Homo sapiens: one gene and its partner. The protein of the gene in region 2 purifies or fractionates together with the protein of the main gene of each other region. This does not show direct contact. Each region holds a gene or a part of one and is shown on either strand. Other genes may lie near its edges.

The links. The genes of interacting proteins can lie anywhere in the genome.
Region 1: the proteins of USP6 (region 2) and TEAD4 purify together in Homo sapiens (affinity purification with western blotting, with the first as the bait; one study listed by BioGRID). This does not show direct contact.

Annotation. Positions count from the first base shown.
Region 1 is NC_000012.12:2,990,338-2,994,031, reverse strand, and holds part of TEAD4 (transcriptional enhancer factor TEF-3), read right to left. Parts: intron 1-3,694. UniProt on the Homo sapiens protein: Transcription factor which plays a key role in the Hippo signaling pathway, a pathway involved in organ size control and tumor suppression by restricting proliferation and promoting apoptosis.
Region 2 is NC_000017.11:5,139,844-5,143,537, forward strand, and holds part of USP6 (ubiquitin carboxyl-terminal hydrolase 6), read left to right. Parts: intron 1-1,581; coding exon 1,582-1,656; intron 1,657-2,159; coding exon 2,160-2,298; intron 2,299-2,553; coding exon 2,554-2,659; intron 2,660-3,694. UniProt on the Homo sapiens protein: Deubiquitinase with an ATP-independent isopeptidase activity, cleaving at the C-terminus of the ubiquitin moiety. Catalyzes its own deubiquitination. In vitro, isoform 2, but not isoform 3, shows deubiquitinating activity.

The DNA.
Region 1 (3,694 bases), on a different chromosome or scaffold from region 2:
CTCATGCTCGCGGCAGCATTATTCACAAGAGTCAAAAGGTAGAAGCAAACCAAGTGTCCATCAATGGATGAATGCATGAACAAAATGTGGTGTATACCTACAGCGAAATAGGAGCTTTAAAAAGGAAGGCAACCGGGACACGTGCTGCAGCACAGACGGACCTTTAGGACATTATGCTGAGTGAAACACGCCAGTTACAAAACAACCCAAACACTGCATGATTCCGCTGACGAGGTATCTAAGCAGTCACATTAGGCCAGGCACAGTGGCTCATGCCTATACTCCCAGCACTTTGGGAGGCTGAGGCAGGAGGATCCCTTGAGCCCAGGAGTTTCAGACCAGTCTAGGCAATATCGGGAGACCCCATCTCTACAAAAAATTAATTTAAAAAAAATTAGCCAGGTGTGCTGGCTCGCACCTATAGTCCCAGCTACTCTGGAGGGTGAGGGCAGAGAATCACTTGAGCCTGGGAAGTCAAGGCTGCAGTTAGCCATGATTGCGCCACTGCACTCCAGCCTGGGTGACAGAGCAAGGCTCTGTCTCAAAATAAATGAATACAATAAAATAAAAATAAAGTAGTCGGCAGGGTGCAGAGGCTCACACCTGTAATCCCAGCACTTAGGGAGGCTGAGGCAGGAGGATCATTTGAGTCCAGGAGTTAGCAAGACTTCATCTCTACTAAAAATTTTTTTTACAAAATGTTCTTAAGTGGTCAAACAAATAGAAACAGAGTAGAATGGTGGTTACCAGGAGCTCGTGGGAGAAAGACACAGAGTTGTGACTTGACAGGTACAGAGTTTCGGTTTTGCACGATGAAGAAGTTCTGGAGACCTGCTGCGCAGCATTGTGAATATACGTAACACTACCAACCTGGATACTTCAAGAGGGTTAGGATGGTACATTTTGTGGTCTTTTTTACCACAATGAAAAATTTTTAAAAACGCATATACAATATAATGTAGGTCACTATTCTCCTGTTCCCTTCCCAACTCAGGCTCTTTCTGAAAGAAACAGTCTTGGCAGCTCCTCACACACTGGAGCAACGGCAGGATTGACTTTCTGGTGCCTCTGGAGGCTCATGGTCACAACCCCACCTTCCCCTAACATGAGACAAATCCAGTGACCTCTTGGCTCCAACCATCCAAGCTGTAAGCTTCCAAACATAGTTCTCAGGGGTTTGTGAAGGAGCAGGACATACCAGTAATCTTAAGGCAGTTTTTGGGTTATGAGTACCAGCTGGGAACCACGTACCTCCCACAGCCCTCGCAGAGCCCCCAACTTCTCCCCATCCCAGCCACCGAGTCCACTTGTAAAGGAGGACCTCACCGCGTCACACACATTGCCCGTCCCTTCTCCCCCACTAGCCTTGAGGAGCAATGCAGTCCAGCAGCCCAAACCCAGGCTGGGGGTCTAAACCCCTGAGTTCGACCACTTCCACCTCGGATCCTCTGAAGTGGGACCTCCCAGAGCATTCCTCGCTTATCATTGCCCTCCATACCCTCAAACCCCTCATCTCCCACCCATGGCCTGTGAGAAGGACAATTTCCTTCACAGAGAGGCACTGTGAGGGAGGGGGTGAGGATCGAGGGGAGGGAGGGGCTAAGTGTGGGAGGCACATCCCAGGAGGAGAGGTCAAAAGGAGCTTGGCAAAGCAGCTGGCACAGACATGCAGTGGGAAAGAGGTTAGAGCCACTGACACGTAAAGCAGGAACCAGCCGGGCGCAGTGGCTCACACCTGTAATCCCAGCACTTTGGGAGGCCGAGGCGGGTGGATCCCCTGAGGTCAGGAGTTCGAGACCACCCTGGCCAACATGGCGAAACCCCGCCTCTACTAAAAATAAAAAAATTAGCCGGGCATGGTGGCGGGTGCCTGTAATCCCAGCTACTCAGGAGGCTGAGGCCAGAGAATCACTTGAACCCGGGAGGCAGAGGTTGCAGTGGGCCAAGATGGTGCCACTACATTCCAGCCTGGGCGACAGAGCGAGACTCCGCCTCAAAAAAAAAAAAAAAAAAAAGCAGGAACCGCCCCCCCCAACCCCCACCACAGGAAACCTAAGCAGCTCCTTCAGCTTGCTGAAAAGGGCACTGAGGCCCAGAGGCCTAAGGACACGCCCAAGGTCGCGCAGTGAGGCCAAGGTGCAGGTCAAGGTCTTGTTCTCAGCCCTTCAGAGTCACTGGCCTTTTTAGTGTAACAAGTGTTGCCTGTTGTCTCTGTGGCTGTTAAAGTAAGTTTTCATGAGAGTTTGGGGGCAGAGTCGCTTTTTCGGGAATAAACTAGCTTATTCTCATCAGAAATTCTGGTCTTGATTCTATCCTGAACATGAAAACATTTTTCCATACTTCCAAAACAAACTTCTTTTTTTTTGTGGGGGGACGGAGTCTTGCTCTTTCACTCAGGCTGGTGGGCAATGGTACAATCTCGGCTCACTGTAACCTCCGCCTCCCAAGTTCAAGCAATTCTCCCACCTCAGCCTACTGAGTAGCTGGGATTACAGGCACACATCACCACACCCAGCTGATTTTTGTATTTTTAGTAGAGACGGGGTTTCGCCACGTTGGCCAGGCTGGTCTCAAATTCCTGACCTCAGGTGATCCATCCACCTCGGCCTCCCAAAGTGCTGAAATCACAGGCGTGAGCCATCATGCCCAGCCTGAAACAAACTACTTAAAAGAGTTGCCAACTTTAATTTCTGGCAATATAGTAGATAAGATGATTTTAAAACTCTCACTCTATAAATAAATTTAGAAACGACTGAGCAAAGCTCCCTTAGTAATGAGGAAGCTGGTTTTTTATTTTTCATCACTTTAAATTTTTATTATTTTTTATTTTTTAGAGACAGTGTCTTGCTCTGTTGCCCAGGCTGAAGTGCACTGGCAAGATCATAGCTTAGTACAGCACTGAACTCATGGGTTCAAGAGATCCTCCTGCCTCAACCTCCTGAGTAGCTGGGACTCTAGTCACGCACCACCATGCCCGGCTAATTATTTATTTACTGTAGAGATTATGTATTTACTGCAGAGGTCTCACTAGGTTGCCTAGGCTGGTCTTGAACTTCCAGCCTCAAGCAATTCTCCCTCCTTGGCCTCCCATGGAGTGAGCCACCATGCCTGGTCACAACTGGGTTTTAATGGTTGCTCAGAGATGAGACCTTAGACCTAAGAGATGCAGAGAAGCTGAAACTGGGAACTATACCTAAATCCTCAGAGAACCAGTAGAACACTGACAAAATATGACAGCGAAGATTCTCTGGGCCAGGCGTTCTCTGGGCCAGGCGAAGTGGCTCATGCCTGTAATCCCAGTACTTTGGGAGGCCGAGACAGACGGATCACTTGAGGTCAGCTGTTCAAGACCAGTCTGGCCAACATGGCAAAACCTCTTCTCTACTAAAAATACACAAATTAGCTTGGCATGGTGGCACACGCCTGTAATCCCAGCCACTCGGGAGGCTGAAGCAAGAGAATGACTTGTACCTGGGAGGCAGAGTTGCAGTGAGCTGAGATCACGCCACTGCACTCCAGCCTAGGCAACAGAGACTCCATCTCAAAAAAAAAAAAAAAAAAAAAAAAAAAGATTATCTGTCTTAGCCTAAATTCTAGATATAAAAAATAATTCTTAAAAAAAAGAATTTGTAACCAAGGGCCTACCCTTTAATGGATTTGAAATTTGAATTTTATATCGCTTAGTAACCTCTAG
Region 2 (3,694 bases):
CAGTTCCCTCCAGGCTTCTAGAAGCATCTGGGCCAGGGCTCATGGCTGGATAATTTCCCGAGGCTTAACAATCCAAGCAGGCTTCGCATCCTTGTTTTATTTTTTGTTAAACTTATGAAAATTTATTAAGAAAGCGTGCAGCTTGAAAGACATGCACAGATGGAACACACCAGCCCCCAGATCACAAAGCCAACCATGCCCAGCCCCATCCCAGCACCCCCAGCCCCACGACCAGCGTTCTGAATTCTGACAACACCATGAGCCTGTCTTTAAACTCATGGAAGGATAACCACCTTCACGTTTTGAAATAAATGTTTCCTGTTGAAATGATTTTAGATATACAGAAATATTGTAAAGGCACTACAGTGTCCTCCTACACCTTCCATCCAGCTGCCCCTAATAATGACGTTTTGTAATAGCATGGCCCATAAAAAATTTAGGCCGGGTGTGGTGGCTCACACCTGTAATCCCAGCAATTTGAGAGGTCGAGGCGGGAGGTTCAGGTTCACTTGAGTCTAGAAGTCTGAGACCAGCCTGGGAAACATAGGTGGACCCTGTCTCTAGAGAAAAGTCAAAGAAATTAGCCAGGCATGGTGGCATGTGCCTATAGTCCCACCTAGTCAGGAGGCTGAGGCAGGAGGATTGCTGGAGCCCATGAGTTCCAAGAAGCAGTGAGCCATGATTGTACCACTGCACTCCAGCCTGGGTGACAGAGTGAGACAATATCTCTTAAAAAAAATTAAGAAATGTAATGGGAGTACAATCCTATTAACTAAATAATAATGTGAACTATTATCTAAGGTTATTAAGGCTATAATTGTCCCATTTTCGCCTAACTTCTCATACCTGTCCTAAGATCCCATCTTGGACTCACCCTCTGCCTTCAGCTCATGCCTCTTCAGCTTCCTGCAGATGGTCCAGTAAACACACACCTGGGCTGAATGGTAGAGCTGATTACTCATACACAAGGGTAGACCTGTGGGCAGGGATTTTCAAACTTATACAGTCAATGAGTTTTCCATGGTGTTCTGGAGAGCACCCTTTAAGAAACACTTTGACAGTGAATCTAGGCCTCAATATCCATCAGCTGCTCTAGCTTGAATTTCTTAAATTTTTTTAAGAGATAAAGTCTCACTCTGTCACCAAGGATGGAGTGCAGTGGTGCAATCATGGCTTACTGCAGTGGTCCCATAAGATTATAATACTGTATTTTTAGTTGTACCTTTTCTATGTTCTAACATGTTTAGGTACACAAATACTTACCATTGTGTTACAGTTGCCTACAGTGTTCAATACAGTAACATACTGTACAGGTTTGTAGCCAAGGAGCAACAGCCTATACCATACATAGCCTAGGTTTGTGTAGGTACACTCCGTGATGTTCATACAAAGACAAAATCACCTAATGATGCATTTCTCAGAATGTAACCTCATCATTAAGCAATGCATGTACTAAAATTAGCTAGATTTTAAAACTTCCGATTTAGGAATAAGATGTCTTTAAAAAAAAAAAACAGAAGCAATCAAGTGGGTGTAAATTAGACAGATAAGAAATTAACACATTCCTATCTGTCCTTCCAGTTCACAACAAAGATATGAGTTGGCCTGAGGAGATGTCTTTTACAGCAAATAGTAGTAAAATAGATAGACAAAAGGGTAAGTCTCCAGTATTATTTTTTAAAGAGATTATTTTAAATGTATTTTTTTTCTTCTTTCAACTATTAAAGTGCTAACAACTTTTGGTTTTCTAGTTCAAAAGTAATTAGGGCCCTTCTTTTTCTTTTTTCCTGAAGCAGCATTTGATGTTGGCAAACCCACCATCAAATTATTTTCTAAATTTCTTTCTAACTCTGCAATTTAATAATTTATATGTTTTAAAAGACATGCTAGAAGAATAATTGTTTGAATTATTTTGAAAAATCATAGCAATTAAAAAGAATAATTGCTGCTTCTGGGTTACAAATGAGCATGGATCATCACTGTTGCCAGACATACCATGAAAAGCCTTCTCTAGCATTTCAAAGACCTGCTAGAGAATTATTAGCACCATTTAGCTGATTATGAGAGTTATAAAAAATCTTTTCATTGAATATAAGTAACTGTTTGTGCCATGGCATATTACTACAGCTAAGCTTTGGTTCTCATATTGTTTGTTCCAGTTCCCACAGAAAAGGGAGCCACAGGTCTAAGCAACCTGGGAAACACATGCTTCATGAACTCAAGCATCCAGTGCGTTAGTAACACACAGCCACTGACACAGTATTTTATCTCAGGGAGACATCTTTATGAACTCAACAGGTAAACTTTCTTGAGTCACTGGCCTCTTAACCTGTGACTTTGATATAAACCCACTATCACCTAAATTTCCTCTTTTTTCACCCTGCGGGAGAAAGATTTTATCTTATTTGCCCTATTTAATATGAAATAGGCCAAGGAATACATCTCTTGTTTCAAAAAGAAAAGATATTTTGATGTGAGATGCTAGGCATCTTTGCCCACATGATTGTGATTTATGAGAATCTTTGGCAACAAATTTTCCTCTCAAACTTCTAGGACAAATCCCATTGGTATGAAGGGGCATATGGCTAAATGCTATGGTGATTTAGTGCAGGAACTCTGGAGTGGAACTCAGAAGAGTGTTGCCCCATTAAAGCTTCGGGTAAGCAGGTTAAAATAATATAAAAGTATTTAATTCCTAAATAGTTGTTTAATCATTTTTCTCTACTTGTTTTTTGTGTTTAGCCTTTTAGCTTAATGAACGTTTTTGGATCCTTTACTTGGTATAAACAAGAGGCCAAATTCTTTTGCTTGTTTAAATATTTGCAAAATACTACTGTATATGCAGTGGGTAGGATAAAGACCAAAGGTACACTCTAAATTTGGGATGTCATTCATTTTACTAATTTGTCAAACATCTTATATGAAGAGTAAACCTTTTTTGGTAATACTTCACTATTAGCAGTATTCTAACTGCAAGGTGGACCTCAGAGTCTTATTAATTACATCCAATCCAATACATTTTCAACATAACTAAGATAGTTATATCTGTAGAATACAAAGAAGTAGGCTGGGCGCAGGGGCTCATGCCTGTAATCTCAGCACTTTGGGAGGCCGAGGTGGGTGGATCACTTGAAGCCAGGAATTCAAGACCAGCTTGGGCAACATGGCAAAACCCTGTCTCTACTAAAAAAAATTATCAGCCCCCCGCCCAGCCAGCCGCCCCATCCGGGAGGGAGGTCGGGGGGTCAGCCCCCCACCCGGCCAGCCGCCCCGGCCTGGAGGGAGGTGAGGGGGTCAGCCCCCTGCCCGGCCAGCCGCCCCGTCCGGGAGGTGAGGGGCGCCTCTGCCTGGCCGCCCCTACTGGGAAGTGAGGAGCCCCTCTGCCCGGCCACCACCCCGTCTGGGAGGTGTACCCAACAGCTCATTGAGAACGGGCCATGACGACAATGGCGGTTTTGTGGAATAGAAAAGGGGGAAAGGTGGGGAAAAGATTGAGAAATCGGATGGTTGCTGTGTCTGCGTAGAAAGAAGTAAACATAGGAGACTTTTCATTTTGTTCTGTACTAAGAAAAATTCTTCTGCCTTGGGATCCTGTTGATCTATGACCTTACCCCCAACCCTGTGCTCTCTGAAACATGTGCTGTGTCCACTCAGGGTTAAATGGATTAAGGGCGGTGCAAGATGTGCTTTGTTA